2 separate regions of the Homo sapiens genome follow, and region 1 is linked to region 2. The links come from fine-mapping of genetic effects on gene expression. A gene starts in region 2. The other region holds a variant in brackets. All regions are shown on one strand. Distances are between the middles of the regions. Region 1 overlaps FBXO32 (F-box protein 32). Region 2 holds the start of FBXO32 (F-box protein 32).

Evidence for each region.
Region 1: its variant is fine-mapped to the expression of FBXO32 in blood mononuclear cells (TOPMed, PIP above 0.99).

What each region holds. Positions count from the first base shown.
Region 1 is chr8:123,513,075-123,521,074 of GRCh38, forward strand. It overlaps FBXO32 (F-box protein 32), which reads right to left. Exons shown (of 9, transcript NM_058229.4): 5 at 1,166-1,259; 6 at 124-308. Among named protein-coding and RNA genes, the nearest start is that of FBXO32, 24 kb to the right of the region's middle. The variant T/C (reference allele first, on the strand shown) is at 4,400.
Region 2 is chr8:123,536,946-123,546,899 of GRCh38, forward strand. It overlaps FBXO32 (F-box protein 32), which reads right to left and starts at 4,261. Exons shown (of 9, transcript NM_058229.4): 1 at 3,954-4,261. The coding sequence starts at 4,069. RefSeq lists silencers at 4,158-4,247, 4,298-4,407, 4,498-4,787.

The sequences.
Region 1 (8,000 bases), 25 kb before region 2:
AGCAGCAGATCAGAAAAGACCAGACTCTTCCGTCACAGGAGTGAATTCAAAGTCTTGGCGAGTCTGTCCAGTATCCCTGTGGAGGGACCCACTGCCGGGAGGAGGCTGGGCCTGCCCGCTTACCCTGGTGATCTGAATGTTGTTCAGCTGCTGCTGCCAGTGGAGAATCGTCTCCATCCGATACACCCACATGTTAATGTTCCCGACCAGCACAGACTTGCCGACTCTTTGGACCAGTGTACATAAGGATGTGTAGAGGGTCTGGAGTAGTTCCCTTATTAGTCTAATGTTTTGCTGGTCTTCAAGGACTTGAGTAGGGAAGAAAAAAATAATTAAAGTTATGATACTGGAACACCCTGTATTTTACACATGAGCTTGTCTCTGTCTGTATTCCACTCATGTTACCCAGGCACTGCCTCTGGGGATATGGTTTTCTTCCTCACCAGTGTTTATTGTACGCTTGGCCAAGCTTCTGCACTTGAGGTTAAAGGGTAGAGTTTCCATTATCTAGGTCCCTCTTTGTTCTCTTCTCTCTCATTTTCTATAAAGCCTCTTTCTCTTTTCATTGTTCTCCCAGCAGCCATGGTTCACCTGATCAGAAAGCCACTCCTTTTGCCCAGAAGTGACCCCGTTTAGGACAGTCAGTGGAAGGAGCATGGTTTCAGGGGTTTGGAGCCTGGGTTCTAATCCTGTCTGGCTGACTCTCTGTGTGATTATGGACAAATCACTTCTCCTCATGGGCCTCAGTTTCACCATGTGTACAATGAGTCAGTTGAACCAGAGACCTAAGGTTCCTTCTAGCTCGAATAGTCTACGAATCTATTCTGACTTTGTACACATGTCGATTTTCTAGGAATTTGGGACCCGGAGGCTCGGTAGCCAGTGTTGGGACCTGTGTCTACACTGAGAAGCCTACGAGGCTTATAGTAGGGCAAGTGGATGGTCCCAAAGAAAGGACAGGAGGGTGATGGTCTCACCCTTTGCCATGAGGATGAGTTGTACCCCTTTCCGAACTGGAATTTAGTGTCTCTAAAATGTAGCTGGAGTTATTCATTTCCATCCATTCACATGTCTTTAAGTCTAATGACACGTCCACTTCATTGGAAAATCCATCTGCCCACCTCCATGCCTATAAAAAGGGGCGAGAGAGTGAGAGAAGGCTCACCTTTCAGTACCACTTTTTCCAAAATATTCATGAAGTTCTTTTGGGCGATGCCACTCAGGGATGTGAGCTGTGACTTTGCTATCAGCTCCAACAGCTGAGGATAAAAATAGAAGTTGCCAGGCTTAGAGTACAGAGATATTTTTCTCCTCTAATCTTCACTTTTGAGTCCCATGACACGTGGATACAGACTGACGGGGAGAGATAAATGGCAGGCAGGGCCACAATGCAATAAAAAGCAGATGCTCAGAGTGAAAGATAAATGGGGTAATTCAAAACCCAGGATTGGGTTGAATATTTAATTGCTTTTCTTCTTTTAAATATAAAGAATTTTGGCTTCAGCCAGGGCTAATTCAATCTACTTGTCCTACTTCAGCAAGTGAAGCTGACGTACCCTGAAGGGAACAAAATCTCCCATGACCTGTGAATGGCTGAGTTCTGCAGAATCACCTCCCGGGGGAATTCTTCTGCCCCCGCTTGAACTTCTTCCTTATTGGCACTGACTGCTCTCAAGGCACCTAAAGCCCATCTTCAGCAGCCATGTGCACTTTTTCCATGGAAGTGGAGAGTCTTATCCTGATACCTCCTGCTTCTGCAGTGTTCAATAAACATGTCTATTAATTAGACTCTTTCACTGCACTTACATTTCTGTAGAAAGACGCCAATCACAGGAAGAGAGAGAAATTCAGGGATGTATTTTATATGATGTCACTGTGGCTAAAAACTTGGATCCTTGTAGCTCTTGGCCTTAGATTCAGGTCTTGATTTGAACATGTATTAGCTCCGTGATGATGGGCAAGTTACTATATTTCTTGGTGCCCCACCCAGTTTGTTCATCTATACTAATAATATTTAGAGTCTTTAATACAAGGTTGAGTATTTAATACCTTTAATACAAGGTAGAGTCAATAATACAAGGTTGTTGTGAGTGATAATAGGAGAATGCACATAAAGCCCTCAGCAAGTACCTGGCACTAATTAGGTGCTAAATAAAGGGTTTTCTTTGTTTTGTTTTTTGAGACGGCATCTTGCTCTGTTGCCCAGGCTGGAGTGCAATGGTGCAATCTCAGCTTACTGCAACCTCCGCCTCCCAGGTTCAAGTGATTCTCCTGCCTCAGCCTCCTGAGTAGCTGGGATTACAGGCATGTGCCACTACGCCTGGCTAACAGTTTTTTTTTTTTTTTGTATTTTTATTGGAGACAGGGTTTTGCCACGTTGGCCAGGCTGCTCTCGAACTCCTGACCTCAGGTGATCCACCTGCCTTGGCTTCCCAAAATGCTGGGATTACAGGCATGAGCCACCGCGCCCCGCCAGTTTGTTTGTTGAAAAAGTATGTCCCATTCCTACCAACCCCATAATTGCCAGACAAAAATAAATGAAGATAATAACTGAAGTTAGTGCGTACTTAGTCCAATCTTTTTTACCTTCTATAGCAAAATTCTTTACTGACATGGCAAGATTAAAAAACAAATAAAGGCCAGGTGCGGTGGCTCATGCGTGTAATCCCAGCACTTTGGGAGGCCAAGGCAGGTAGATCACGAGGTCAAGAGTTCAAGACCAGCCTGGCCAACATGTGAAACTCCATCTCTACTAAAAGTACAAAAAATTAGCCGGGCATGGTGGCACATGCCTGTGCTCCCAGCTACTCAGGAGGCTGAGGCAGGAGAATTGCTTGAAGCCAGGAGGCAGAGGTTGCAGTGAGCCGAGATCGTGCCATTGAACTCTCGCCTGGGCAACAGAGCAAGACTCCATCTTAAAAAATAAAAAATAAAAAACAAAGATCCTATTGTTGAAAAATGAAACTTTAGACTGGAAGGAATCTTAAGAGACCATCTAGTTTAATCCACTTAACAGATGAGCAAAGCGAGGCTCAAGAGACCCACCTTATGAGCCACTCCACAACTAGTGAGGACTCAGCAGAGTCCTTCTCAACACAGGAAAATATCACACTTCATGCTTTCAAAGAGTTAACAAACAAAAGAGGTTGATATAAAGTGAAAGTAATTAACTTCACGAGAACCCACCAGGCCCCCAGAGAAAACTATTAGGCTGGTGCAAAAGTAATTGTGGTAATAACTAGCCTGAGACTCAGTAGACTAGACACAGAGAACCGAGACCCCTCCTTTACACTGAAGCTAGAATCTCCGCTCCTAGGAAACTTTCTAAGAGAGTTTCATCTCCTGGCCAGGCCTCAGCCCAGCTTCATTTCAGATCAATAAACACTGAGCATGACACTGTGGTGGGTGCTGGAATCAAGGCTGAGGGAAGAAGCAAAATGAAATTTTAAAGATTGGGTTGCAGAGGAGAATGGAAACTTTTGGATCAACGGCCTAGGCAATTCAGAGCACCTCTGCTTCCATGGCATTTGCATAACATGTTTGTCCCCGTGGAGCTCTTTAGGAGCCTGTTAAACCACACACAGACTTTTAATTTCCTGAATGTAATTTTACTTTACATATTAAAAAAAGCCACCCCCAAACCAAACTCCTTTTTCTCCCTGGCTTCTGTATCTTTTCCACATGCAGGGAGAGATGAGGCTAGCTGACTGGGAGGAGGAGGTGGTTTGTTGCAATTAGTACTGGTGATCTAGTTGGAAGTCAGGAGCTCACCGAGTGTCTGCTGAAAGAGGCGGGAAATCAAAACACCAGTAGAGACCATGGCCATGGGCGGTGACCACACCGAATGCTGTGGTTTAGCTTTGCCACCAACCAGCACGTGACAGTCAAGAGAGGAGTGAAAATGGCACAAAGGGACTGGCCAAACCTTTCATTTACCTCCCTGACCAACAGCAAGATTCGGAAGGCCAAGATGATGGTCTATTAATACCCTGATCCTCACATGACCAACATGAAGCAGATGAAAGAAAACAAAAGCCTCGGGTCGGCTTTTGAAGGGCAGTCAGCTGTGCACTGTGACTCATCACTGGGTAGGAGGTGGGGCAAGGGGTTGGGAGGAAGGCAGCCAGAGCTCTGCCTGAAATCCATCCAAAACCCAGATTCCATGTGACTACCATCTCATGAGGGTGTCAGTTTTAATCTTGTCAAAATATGCACCAATCACAAGGACAAGTAAACTCTCAACACTATGACTGTGCACTGGAGGAGAAACGAACTGTCTTTGGTCTGATTATCTTCTCTAAGGAGAAGGAGGAATATAGCAGCAAAAATTTGTCAACTGACAGCATAACGACATGTTAACCATTCTGTGCTTCATCCTATCTCAAGGGAAAGTCCCCCC[T/C]ACCTTTTTTTTTTTTTTTAACTGTCAGACAGCTGTGGAGTCAGGAGAAAGAACCCTGGAAGAGGAGAAGACCTGGATTCTCTAGCTGGGTGACCTTTGTAACTGTCATTCATTTAGCAAGTATTTTCTGAGTGTCCACCCTGTGCTAGCATCGTGGTAGGTGACAGGGACATGATGATGAAGACACATGATCCCTACACTCATGGAGTTTGCTCTTCAGCCTAGAGTGTAAGTCATTTAATCCCTCTGAACTCCTGATTCTTCATTTCTAAAATGGAAATAAAAAGACTACTTACTTCACAGGATTGCTATGAGAATTAAGTAAGATAAATATGTACAAATCCACAGTAAATACCAAACATAAGGCATTTTTATTATAAGATATTATTTCTTTCCCTTTAAACTCCAGTCTTTTTGTGAAGTTTAAAGTTGACATCAGGGGTTAGCAAACTTTTTCTGCAAAGTGCCAAACAGTAGGTGTTTTAAGGTTTGTGGGCCACGTGGTCTCTGTAGCAACTACTCCACCCTGAAGCTATAGCACCGAAATGGCTATAGACAATGTGTAAATGAGTGGGCATGGGTGTATTCCAATAAAACTTTATTTACAAAAGCAGGTGGAGGGCCAGATTTGGCACCTGGGCTATGTCACAGTTTCTGGTATATATCATAAGAGTTTAAGAGTGAGGGCTCCAGAGGCAAACTGTCTGCCTCAGTTTTCCCATCTTCAAAATATGCACAGTAATAGTACCTACTTCAAAGTTGCTGTGAAGATTAAATGTATTCACATAGCACTCATAACTGTGCCTGCTACAAAGAATATACTCGATAAATTATTATTGTTAGCTTTTACCATAATACAGAGCATTACCAAGTAAAATTATTGCCAATCAGGAAATAGTGAGTTAACAGGGCAAAGTGCAACCCATTTAAAGACCTTCAGAATTGCTGTATTTCAATTGTAGCTGTTGTCAAACAAATAAATAAATGCTTTCACACTGTAATATTCCTTTCTGTCATTTTACTATGTTGGTGATACATTTAATAGCACCCTATCTGTTGATAAAAGTTAATGCTGATACATTTTATGACTTGCATAGTTTTTCTACCATGGAGTCTTATTTTGCTAACAATAACAATAACAATGGGGTGCTTACTATGTGTCAGCAACTGCAGCTAAGCACTATACATTTGTAATCTTGTTTATCTTTTACAGCAACCCAGTGAGATAGCTTCTCCATTTAACCATTGAGGATATTGAGGCTCAGAGAAGTACTCACCTAAAGCCATACCAGCAGTAGCAAATGCTGGAGCCAGGACTTGAGCCCAGATATGTCTAACAGAGAACACATTTTCTTTTTTTTTTGTTGAGACAAAGTCTCACTCTGTCACCTAGGCTGGAGTGCAGTGGCACAGTCATGGCTCACTGTAGCCTTTACCTCCGAGGCTCAAGCTATCTTCCCACCTCAGCCTCCCAAGTAGCTGGGACCACAGGGGCACAGCACTATGCCTGGCTAATTTTTTTTATTTCTATTTGTAGAGACAGGGTCTTCCTAGTTACCCAGGCTGGCCTCGAACTTGTGGGATCAAGCGATCCTCGTGTTTCAGCCTCGCAAAGTGCTGGGATTACAGGCATGAGCCACTGTGCCTGGCAGAACATATATTCTGACAGTTTCAGGACTTCAGTTTGTCAAGGCCAATCAATTTGCATGGAGGGCCAAATTTTACTCCAAAATGGGAGCAATACCATTTATTGTTATGTTCTGGGGAAACAGAGTCTAGAAAATTTTATATAATATTGGGCTGGGCGTGGCGGCTCACGCCTGTAATCCCAGCACTTGGGGAGACTGAGGCAGGCGGATCACGAGGTGAGGAGATCGAGACCATCCTGGCTAATGGTGAAACCCCATCTCTACTAAAAATACAAAAAATTAGCCGGATGCGGTGGCGGGTGCCTGTAGTCCCAGCTACTCAGGAGGCTGAGGCAGGAGAATGGCGTGAACCCGGGAGGCAGAGCTTGCAGTGAGCTGAGATCACACCACTGCACTCCAGCCTGGGCGACAGAGCAAGACTCCATCTCAAAAAAAAAAAAAAAAAAGAAATTTTATATAATAATATGTTGTGACTGGTAAACAACTTTTAATATTAAGGGCACTGTAATGCTCAGAAAGTGCTACCAGCACATTTAGGATGAGGCAACTGCTTTGGGTAAACCACAGAGTCTACTTTCCACATCAGCATCACTCTATAGGCCCAGAGCTACTACTAGGTAGTGATGTATGGAACTAGTAGTGAAGAGAGCAGAATTTACCGATTTTTAAATTTTTTAATTTTTGAGACAGAGTCTTGCTCTGTTGCCCAGGCTGGAGTGTAATGGCGTGATTTCGGCTCATTGCAACCTCCACCTCCCAGGTTGAAATGATTCTCCTGCCTCAGCCTTCTGAGTAGCTGGGATTACAGGCACCCGCCACCACACCTGGATAATTTTTGTATTTTTAGTAGAGATCGAGTTTCACCATGTTGGCCAGGTTGGTCCTGAGCTCCTGACCTCAGGTGATCTGCCTGCTTTGGCCTCCCAAAGTGTTGGGATTACAGGCGTAAGCCATCGCGCACAGCCCAAATTTATCGATTTTATTTGTGTTAAGAGAGCTGCGTGCCTAGGAAAGTAGGTTTGTATCTAGCAATCTGTGTACCAGGATGACTTAGCCAATTGGATTCTTTGCCCCTAGCCACAAGAGAAAAAAAGAACAGAGGAAAATGTCTTGTTTGGAAGTGGCTGCTTGTTTTTGACTGGGCAAATTTTAGCCCAGGTGCTAGTAATTTGTGGCTATGTTTAAAGAGAGGCAGGGGGAGGGAAGGGGAAGGAGGAGGAGGCTTCTCGGCTCCTCTGGAATTCCGTGGTGTCATTATCGTGTGGGCACTCTGGGCATCCGGCATGATCTGCAGTGACGAGCCGTGCAGTACCAGGAATGGCTCTGAGCTACTGGAGGGAGGGATGGTGGTCACCGCATGCTGAAACCACATCCTGCCCTTCAGCTTTGGCTCATGCTAGTTCTGGAGGCAACGAATAGGAGACAAATCTAGTTGCAAGCAATATCGTATAGCAAATCTCAGAGCGGATATCAACCAAAGTTTGAAGTGGTGTGTGCAAGACGAATGGGCAGAAGAGAGATTTCCCTCTTATCTCACTGCTCTCGTATCAAGAGCAGGCTTCTTACGTCTTCTTCCCTACAGTTTATTTTAGCATAGCATTCATAGTTTTAAAAATCCATCAGTTCACGTTACTTCTTTGCTTAAAATCCTCAAATGGCTTCTCCTTGCGCTTAGGAAAAAACTCAAGCTCCTTACCATGACTGGCAAGGTTCTCCCTGATCTGGTTTCTACCCCTTTTCCAGCCTAGTTTTGCACAAATTCACTCTGCTCCGGCTACACAGGTTATTCGTCTCTCGAATAGGCCAAGCTTATTCTCACCTCTGGGCCTTTGCCTCTGCCACATCTTTACATGCTCGGCTCCATCCCATCCCTCAGGTCTCAGTTCAAACGTGGCCTGCCCCGGGCTCAGAGGGCCCTTCCCTGGCCATCTTATGCAAAAACCTCCCTGTTG
Region 2 (9,954 bases):
TTGATGATGTTCTCTCACCGTAGAATGTAGAAAAGTTTTAACCAAAGAGAAACCCTATATTTTCACTTGGTATTAGGTTTTAGATTCCGGAGGAAGGGCCTGGAAAGAAGGGCTATGGGGTTTATTTGTGTTGCCTACTTATAAGTTTTCTTTTAAGCAATAATATATTCAGTTAGAGGCTATTTTGAGAGTTCAATCGTGTCCTTTTCAAGAAAATGCAAAGCCAATGGAAAATTACAACTGAAATTTTTAACAAGAAAAACCACCACCATTTAGGAATTGGAGCACAGGATTTTTTTTTTTTTAATAAGCAAAACCATCTCAACGAGGCTGCTTTCTTCACTAAATTCAATAATAGCCAGCAAGTCGCTATTTTGTAGTCACTATTTACTAATCTTGATTTTTATAGGCACAGGCCTAGAATAAGAAAAAGATCCACTGCACAGCCCCACATTACCACATACCAAGATACTTTAAGGCAACTTTTTAAAAATGTAGAAAAAATTCAAAATCAGACCATAAATAAGTCTGTTTTGGCAGCAGATAAAGAAGGGAATGAAAAAAAAAATAAAGCCCTATTTCTCATTTCATTTGCAATAAAAACCATTTAAGAAAGCTGTGACGTGCCCCCAGAGGTTTAATTGTAGTTATATAGCCTGATTAAAGCCAGTAGAGATTTCTACACCAATTTACTGACGCATTTCTAGATCGCCACACTCACAAGGCTAGCACCCGGAATGCTCTGGTGAAACAAACAGCCTAGTGTATAACGCTCATAGAACAGTGCCTTGCACACAGTAAGCACTCATAAAATCTTAACTATTATTTTTATCCAGTCACCAAGGTAAACTTCCTGCTTCCGGGTCCAGCCTCAGCCATACAGTAAAGTAACATTTGAGTCAGTCTTCAATGACAGAAGTGTAGGCTTAGAAAAGAGTGGCAGAGGCTCAGACAGCTTAGGTTACTCATCCTGGGGGTGGGCGGTGAGGGGGTGGTTGCTGAGGAAGGCTGTGCGGGTGCCTGAACCACCACTTCCTTGAAGCATTCTTGGATCATCCCAATTCACGCCAAGCTCTTTCCTTGCATTTTAAATCTGCCCCAGCATATTTAACACTTGCCATTCCCCTTCTATTTTATATAATTTCAACATTTTTGAGAAGGGGTCCTGCTTTAAGCTTATCTTAAATCCTCCCATGATCTCACTCCTGGACACATGGCTGGGACTGGATTTGTAACATTCTACACTGGAGAAGGTTGGAGTCCTAGACCACAGAGAAGATGGCCAGCTGAGTCCAGAATAGGTGTGCTGTGTGGACAAGACTTGGTCAACACGAAACAATAACCCCAGGCTGAAAACCACCAAATGCATCCTTCATCCCGGGCTCTTGTTTGGGCCGTTTGCAGAATGGTCTGTGGAATTAGAGAAGTCAGTCTACCATGTCTCTGTAGTTCTCTGTTTCACGGTCCCTCCCCGCTTAAGGGCCTGCCTTTTGTTTTCTCATAACAGGAGAGGCATTCAGCTTCACCTGTGCAGGCAGGCACGCAGTCCAAACCTGACATCACGGGGAAACATCACCAAGACCAAAAACAGTGAGGATATTTGAGATGACAAACCCAGACCACAGAAGGCCAACTGCTTTTAAGAAGTTGCAGGCTTCTCATGCTAAGCAGGGAAGGGATTGTTTACAGTTGCTGGAAAAAAAAATACCCTGCAAACAAACAGCCAGCTGCTTTGCTAGGAGGCTACCAAATGATTCCTAAACGCTGACTCAAAGGACCACAGGTGGTCAGTATATCAATGACTATTTGCGGTAATGATGATGGATGTGACAGCTCCAGCTCAGGTGTGAAATGGGAAGAAAAAGAGGCTCATGAACAGGACACGGGAGGGGGGCTGTGCAGGAAACCACCTGATTCCAGCCCAGTCTAAACTTTTGTGGTAAGTTAAGACCATCTTCAGGTCTTCCATACTGTGAAGACAGAGATACCACTATTTCTAAAGGAGAGTGACACCAGTTTCTCTCCTGATGCCGGTATAGGGTATTTTAAAACAAATTTTAAATTTTTATTTATTTTTAGAGACAGGGTCTCGCTCTGTGGCCCAGGCTGGAGCGCAGTGGCACAGTCATGACTCGCTGCAGCCTTGAACTTCTGAGCACAAGCCATCCTCCCACCTCAGCCTCCCGAGTAGGGTAAGTATTAATACGACCCTACATTTTAAATCTTCTGCTGAACTCAATCATCTGTTCTCCACTGAGGAGCATCCTGCAATTATATTTGGGTGAGCAGCTCTAACATGACTCTTCAGACCCTTTCGGCACTTTTCTAGAAAGAACCTGAACTTGTATACAGAAATAAAGTACCAACATATTAGATCATTGTCCTTAGGAACAAGGAGGAAGGAAGGAAGGTTCCCATTTTGTTGAGGGAGAATAATTTAGGCATAATTGGTAACTCCAGTCGATAAAAGACATAGTCTGTCAATAGCAGTTGGTCTTACTTTCCCGTAAATAAATTACTTGATTTTACGTAAATAAGATTTCCTTATGGTGGTCCCTAAACTCCCCTGGGACAGCCTCCAAGTAACTCCAACGTAAATGGTTATATGCTGGTGGTTAATACGCTCAAGTCTCTCCGGACAGACCCCCAGAATTAAATAATGTCTTTCTTTACATTGTGAGACAATGGGAATTTGATGCATTACAAATCACAAACAAATGGGAGGCACGGGAGTTCAAGTTGCCAAAATAACCACATTTTCTTGATAGTTTTCTCAAAATTTATTGCCAATGCTTCATCCAAGCAACGACTGGTAAATCTCAGTAAGCGGGAACCTGGCCCAGAAACAGAATTCTCCATTGAAGTCAATTTAAGGGTGCAGGGGCCCATGGTTTTAACCAAAGGTGGCAGGAAAAGGCTCCCAAGGGTGACTCTGGCTGCACCAGTCCATTCTGGAATCACTTTCATCGCCCCCGCTCACCGGGCTAAATGCTGAGAGTCTCTGAAAGTCAACTGTCGAGGTCAGGGGCTGAGAAATTCCAGGCTACCTTGCGTACTAGCCGGCGCTGGCATCGTTAGCCAAGCTGAGCAGGGAGCGCAGCGGACCTCAGGTTTCCCGCCAGACCACAGAGCTCAGGTGAGGCCTCGAATCCAGAGGCTCACCGGGGCCAGGCAGGCTTTTCGCAGCTGACAGGCACCCCTGGAAACGGAGTGCACTCTATACAAAGCAGACCGACCGAGAGGGCCACCGAGGAAACAGGTGCAAGAGCCCTGTCCTCCCAGAAGCAGAGCTCTTGTGGGATTCATCCCCTGCCCCCTTCCCTCCTTTGCACCTCTGCAGCCCCAAGCCTCCACCGCTCGCAAGTCCGCCCAGTAAGCGGCTGCCCCAGGGACCATCTGGCCGTCCCTTCCTGGTTACTCATCCTCCCGGCCACTTCGTGGTTGCCCGTGCCTGGGCAGGGCCTGGAAGCGCTCCAGGCGGGACCTTCGTCGGATCCCGTCACCTGTCGCGTCCACAGCGCTTGGGCGCTGGGAGCCGGGCCACCCCGCGGTGAAGGGGCTCAGCCCACCCGCCCGCGCCCCCACATGGGCAAAGTGCGCGACTCCGGTGTCCTTAAAGCAGGGACCACTAAAGCTGTGTGATTAAGTTTGAGCGAACGTTTGGGGACACGATCCGCGAATGTCATCAGACTCTCAGAGGGACCAGGTGTTCTGTAAGGAGTCGTGTCCACTTGGAGACACTGACCTTGAACAATAAGAGAAACCGAATTCCCTGTCTCCGGTGGTCCGAAGACCTCTGCAGAAATCGGGCCCCGTAGTCCCACCCTCCGGGTCAGGGTCTCCCTCCTCAGCCCGCTCCAGCCCTGCCTGCCCCTCATTCGCCGTCCCTGCGCCCCCCAGACCAGCCCGGGTCAGTTTCGCGGGGGCTGGAAGTTGGTAGCGGGTCCCCTCACCTGCTGAGGTCGCTCACGAAACTGCCGCTCTTCTCATCCAGGAAGCGCTTCCAGCCGTCGGCCGTCTTCACCCAGTTCTGCCCGGGGGACCGCCAGTCCTGCCCGAGGAATGGCATGGCACCGCGAGCGGACTAGACGGATGGGGAGACGGGGCCGGCCTGGTGGGCTCGGGGACGTGCCACCCGGGGCGGATGCTCGGGGTGCAGGGGCCCGCGACGGGGGCGGCGGGGCGGCGGGAACGGCGCGGGGCACCCTGCGGGGTGGCGGGCGCGGAGAGGATCTCAAGCGTTGCAGGCTCCGGGAGTGCTGCGCGGCAGTAGCTGCCGCAGTATTTATCCCCGCAGCCGGCCGCAGCTCTTTGTTGCCGGAAGAGCCGCCCGCTCTTAGCCCGGCCCCCCGGCCCGGAGGCCACGTGGCTTTGTTTATGGGCTCGGCTTGTTTTCCGAGGCGCCTGCGGCTCACGCTCCCCTCCCGGTTGCACAACCGCGCCGGTGGAAACTTGAAGCGGTGCTGCCGGGCCGGGTACCCCGCCGCCCCTGGCACCTCCGCGCGCCCTCCCCGCCCCCAGGACACCGTTGTCCCAGAGCGAGGCCCGGCGCTTGGAAAGATGCGCCCCGGTCTCCTGCAGCTCCCGGGCTGACGGGGTGCAGGGAGGGGGCCGGAGGGGCGTCTGGGTCCCTGCGGGGTGGGCGTGAGGAGCAGGGCCAGCCCCCCTCCTGCCCCCGAGCTATCAGGATCGACCTCCGCAGCCAGATCAGCCTCCCGGGCCGTCCGCAGAGCTGGGGCCGGCACCGCGCCCGCCGGGCGGGGAGTAGGGGGCGCAGCCTCCTGACCTCGCTCACTGCCCCAACCCCGCCCTAGCGCGCGGGGGTTGGAGCGGGGAGGAGGGACAGCCTCCCAGCCCTCCGGGCCCCTTAGCTGTCACTAACCAGTCCTCCTTCAGACCTGCCCCTGGGGCAGCAAAGGAGGGGAAGGAGAGGAAGCCCTGGGAGGTATCTGGCTCCCGCAGGTTGGGAGTGGAGAAAAAGAACAGCGCCCCTATCCTACCCGAACCCTCTAAGAGACGGGTTAAATGATGTACCCAGGGCCAATGCTACAGTACAATCTGAAACTACCCTGTTTGCTTTTACTTTTTGCTGTTGTTACAACAATCTACCCCTGTCTGCAGTGGGAACTCCATGAGAGCTGGTCTGTCTTGTTCCGGAGGCATTTCAGCCCCTGCACCCTGCCAGGCCCAGTGCAGGCCTTCAACAACTATTTGTGTGAATAAGTGAATGGATACGGGAGGCTGCTGGCATGAGGGTGGCTTCTTGCCCTTCATCACCTCTAGTTATGATGCTTTACAGCCTGGTCTATTTGGCAATTAGTTTGCACAGGACAGCAGCAGCAGAGTAAAAATCCCATACTCAAGCATTAGCTTCAAACTTCATTCTTCCATTCTTCTTTCTCTGCAGCCATCAATATCATCTAGTCCACTGACTCGGTGTAATCTTTAAGGCTCAGGCAAAGAAATTGTGTGTGCCCTATGAGGCTACATGTTGGACTGGGAAGACGTTTTTAATAAAGTTTGTTTTCAAGAAGCCAGAGCTTTCTGATTTAGATTTCCCACCGTAAATAATTTATTAGTGTAGTAATAGTAAAAAAAAAGCTTGTAAAAACATTGAAGAAGTCCCAAACAAATGTTAAACACTGTGATGGTGCTAACAAATGAGGCAGTGTTGGGTCTGGTCTCTGTTGGAGGGAATTGGTATCTGCATAATTAAGGGATGTGATTATTATTATTATTATTTTTGAGACAGGGTCTCATTGTGTCACTCAGGCTAGAGTGAGTGATCATGGCTCACTGTAGCCTCAGCCTCCCCAGCTCAAGCCATCCTCCCACCTCGGCCCCAGTCTCCAGTAGCTGAGACTACAGGCACTCACCACTGCACCAGGCTAATTTTTTATATTTTTTGTAGAGATAGGGTTTTGCTATCTTGCCCAGGCTAGTCTTAAACTCCTGGGCTCAAGTGATCCTCCTTCCTTGGCCTCCCAAAGTGTTGGGATTACAGGCGTGAGCCACCATGCCCGCCTGGGATGTGATTATGAACAATGTGGGTTAGTTATGTATTAGTAAGCTGGCTACATACCTGTAGAGACCACAGAGGGCCAGAAGGTAGAAGTTTTGAATTCTAATTCTGCTGGAGCAGCATACTACCTGTCCTCCCTTGGATGAATGACTTAAACTCTTAGGGCCCCATTTACTTAACTGTCAAGAAAAAATGGAGCCAATAATGCCTACCTTTCAGGATGGTTTAAAAGCTGTGGTAGATTGAATTATTAGTACCCATTCTTCCCTCCTTTCCAGTAGCGTCATGTGCCCACACTTTTTGGTGATGTGTATTTTTCTAATTCTTGACAATGGGCTTGGCCATATGACTGGCTTTAGCCAAGGGGATGCTGATGGATGTGATGTGAGCAGAGGATCTGATGTATGTACTTGCCTGGTTGGTCTTGATGTTTTGTGTGTTCACCTGCTCCATGAAAAGAGCATACCCTGTGTAGCCACTGCTCCTGGAGTGGTTTGAGTGACATCCGTGTGTCCCAGGATGTGACACATGGAGCAGACACTCCCGTTGACCTCACAGATGTGTTAGCAAGAAATAAATGTGTCTTGTTGATGCCACTGAGATTTTTGTGATTTACTGTTACACAGCATTATTGTGTCGATAGCTGACTACTATAAAGGGTTGAGTGGCTCAAAGTTGGTGAAAGTTTCTTTAACTTCTAAAATTCAAGCACAAATAGGAAATTACAATTATTTTTGTCCTTGTCTTTTTGTCTAATAACTAATCTTAGGAAGCCTCAGTGTTTGTCTCTAGTCCTTCCGCTTTCTGTTCCTTAAAACAAACAAACAGAATTGTTGCTATCATATCTTAATGCAGGCTTCTTCTGAAGTGTGATTGACTATTTCAGATTTCTCTTACCATAAAAAAATCTAATTTGAGACTTCTTTTTTTTTTTTGAAACAGAGTCTTGCTCTATCACCCAGGCTAGAGTGTACCGGTGCAATCATGGCTCACTGCAGCCTTGAACTCTTGAGCTCAAGTGATTCTCCTGCCTCAGCCTCCTGAGCAGCTAAGACAACAGGCGTGCACCACCATGCCTGGTTGATTAAAACATTTTTTTTTTGGAGAGATGGGGTCTTGCTATGTTGCTCGGGCTGGTCTCAAACTCTGGCCTCAAGTGATCCTCCCGCCTTGGCCTCCCAAACTACTAGGAGTACAGGCATGAGCCACCATGCTCAGCTGACACTTATTTAAACATGGTTTCTACTGGGAAGTTTTGTAATGCTGGACCCCTCAAGATAAAGAACTTGCTAGGCTATGTCCAGAACAGTTACCTTCAAATCAGATGGGGGCTTGAACTTTGTAAAGACTCTGTGATTGTAAGCCCTATCATAGCTGAGCATTTGAGAATCACCAAAAGCAAAATATCAATGTTATAGCTTCAGGCTGAAGACATAGAGACAGATAGATACTCAGAGAATTTCACAAGGCACAGCACAGACTGGTCAGGACCCCATGTAGCCTAATGGTGTGTGCAGTGTACATGATGTATGTACCATGGCTGTGTGTTTCATTGCTTAGACACTTAGCTACTGCCTTTCCTGCACTGTTTTGTATAACACATTACCCAGATTACATACTGGGTGTTTGATTTTTTGTGTTTTCTTCTCCTGTCTAGGACTGTGAGCTCCTTGATGGCAGGGCTGTGTCTTAGGAGTTTAGTGCCACAGTGTCTAATAAGGTTCTTGGTACACGGTACATTTACATCAACAAATCAACAAATGGGCCCAACGCGGTGGCTCACACCTGTAATCTCAGCACTTTGGGAGGCTGAGGCAGGTGGATCACCTGAGGTCAGGAGTTTGAGACTAGCCTGGCCAACATGGTGAAACGCCATCTCTACTAAAAATATAAAATTTAGCCAGGCGTGGTGGTGGGTGCCTGTAATCCCAACTACTCAGGAGGCTGGGGCAGGAGAATCGCTGGAACCCGGGAGGTGGAGGTTGCAGTGAGCTGAGATCGCGCCACTGCACTCCAGCCTGGGTGATAAGAGTGAGATTCCTTCTCAAAAAAAAAAAAAAAAAAATCAACAAATGTTGTTGAACTGACCTGGAAGGCTGTTATTCCCATGTCTTTACCTGTTGACATTTTATTACTTCTAGGGACATAGCAGGGTGGAGCAAAGGGAGGGTTGGCAGCCCCCAGTCCTACCTCGTATAGCTGCATTCTCCAATAGTGATGCTTTATGGGTTAGTGAGGCAGATGGGGAAGGTAGTCAAAAGGTGGTATCTTAGAAAAAATATGTTTTAATGTCCTATTCCATTGATGATAGATGCCTGCCATGCTGAGGACAGTGTGCCAGTCACTTCACAAACACAATCCTGTTACATACTCCTCATAAACCTGTGGGCTAGGAATTGCTATTCCCATTTTATAGATGAGGAAACTTCAGCTCAGAAAAGTTGAATAGCCTGCGTGAGATCACCTAGCAAATGTGGTGGGACTCCAACTGGTACCCAGGCTTATCTCTAACCCTGACTAGAGCCAGACTCACTGGGTTCAAATCACATTCCCCACCTAAAAAGCTGTGTGATCTTGGGCAAGTTACTTAACATCTCTGTACCATACTTCCTTTATTTGTAAAATGGAAATAATGATAGTACCTACCTCAAAGGGTGTTTTGAGGATTTATTGAGATAATATGTATGAAGAACTTCTAACAGTGCCAATGACAATGGGTCTTTATTGTCATTATCTTTATGCAAAGTTTACACCTCCATCTTTTACTCGGTTAAGCCATGTCCACCTTCCCCATCAAACTGTAAGTTTTGAGGGCATGGAGCGTAGCTCACTCAGCAAATTTCCAGATGTGGGACAAATGTGTCTATTGGGGTACAAGTATAATGAAATAATTCCTTGCATCTTACTTGAACTATGGAAATGGGCCTTATTCTGTAGAACATGTGGAAGATTATATTTTCTTTTTCTTTTCTTTTCTTTTTTTTTTTCTGAGATGGAGTCTCACTCTGTTGCCCAGGCTGGAGTGCAGTGGTGTGATCTCAGCTCACTGCAACTTCCGCCTCCGGAGTCCAAGCAATTCTCTGCCTCAGCCTCCCGAGTAGCTGGGATTACAGGTGCCTGCCACCACACCCAGCTAATTTTTTTTCTATTTTTTTGTATTTTTTTGAGACGAAGTCTCACTCTTGTCCCCCAGGCTGGAGTGCGATGGCGTGATCTCGGCTCACTACATCCTCTGCCTCCTGGGTTCAAACGATTCTCCTGCCTCAGCCTCCCGAGTAGCTGGGATTACAGGCACCTGCCACCATGCCTGGCTAATTTGTGTATTTTATTTTATCTTTTTTTAGTAGAGACGGGGTTTCTCCATGTTAGCCAGGCTGGTCTCGAACTTCTGACCTCAGACCTCAGGTGATCCGCCCGCCTTGGTCTCCTGAAGTGCTGGGATTACAGGCGTGAGCCACCGCACCTGGCCTTTTTTTGTATTTTTAGTAGAGATGGGGTTTCACCATCTTGGCCAGGCTGGTCTTGAATGCCTGACCTCGTGATCCACCCGCCTCAGCCTCCCAAAATGCTGGGATTACAGGGGTGAGCCACCGTGCCTGGCTAGAAGACTGTATTTTCAAAGGTACACACAACATAAATTTAGCCCGTCCACTTCCTCATAAGACTGTTTACAGAAATTGTTTGTAGAAAGGACTGTGAAAAAAACATTTTGTTGCTTCTAAACCAAAATGACATTCGTTTATAGCTTTGGCTGAGGGACTGACTACTTCTCACTGAAGTGCAATGATATTTTGTTTTTTCATAGTTTCTCTTTCTGAAAGGGTTTTTTTTTTTTGGTGAAAAATACTTATCAGCAGTAGTTGTAAGTTAAAAATAACTTTAGCTTGTCGGGTAGGGCAGGAGCAGAAATCAACTAAATCTGTTGAAGTTAG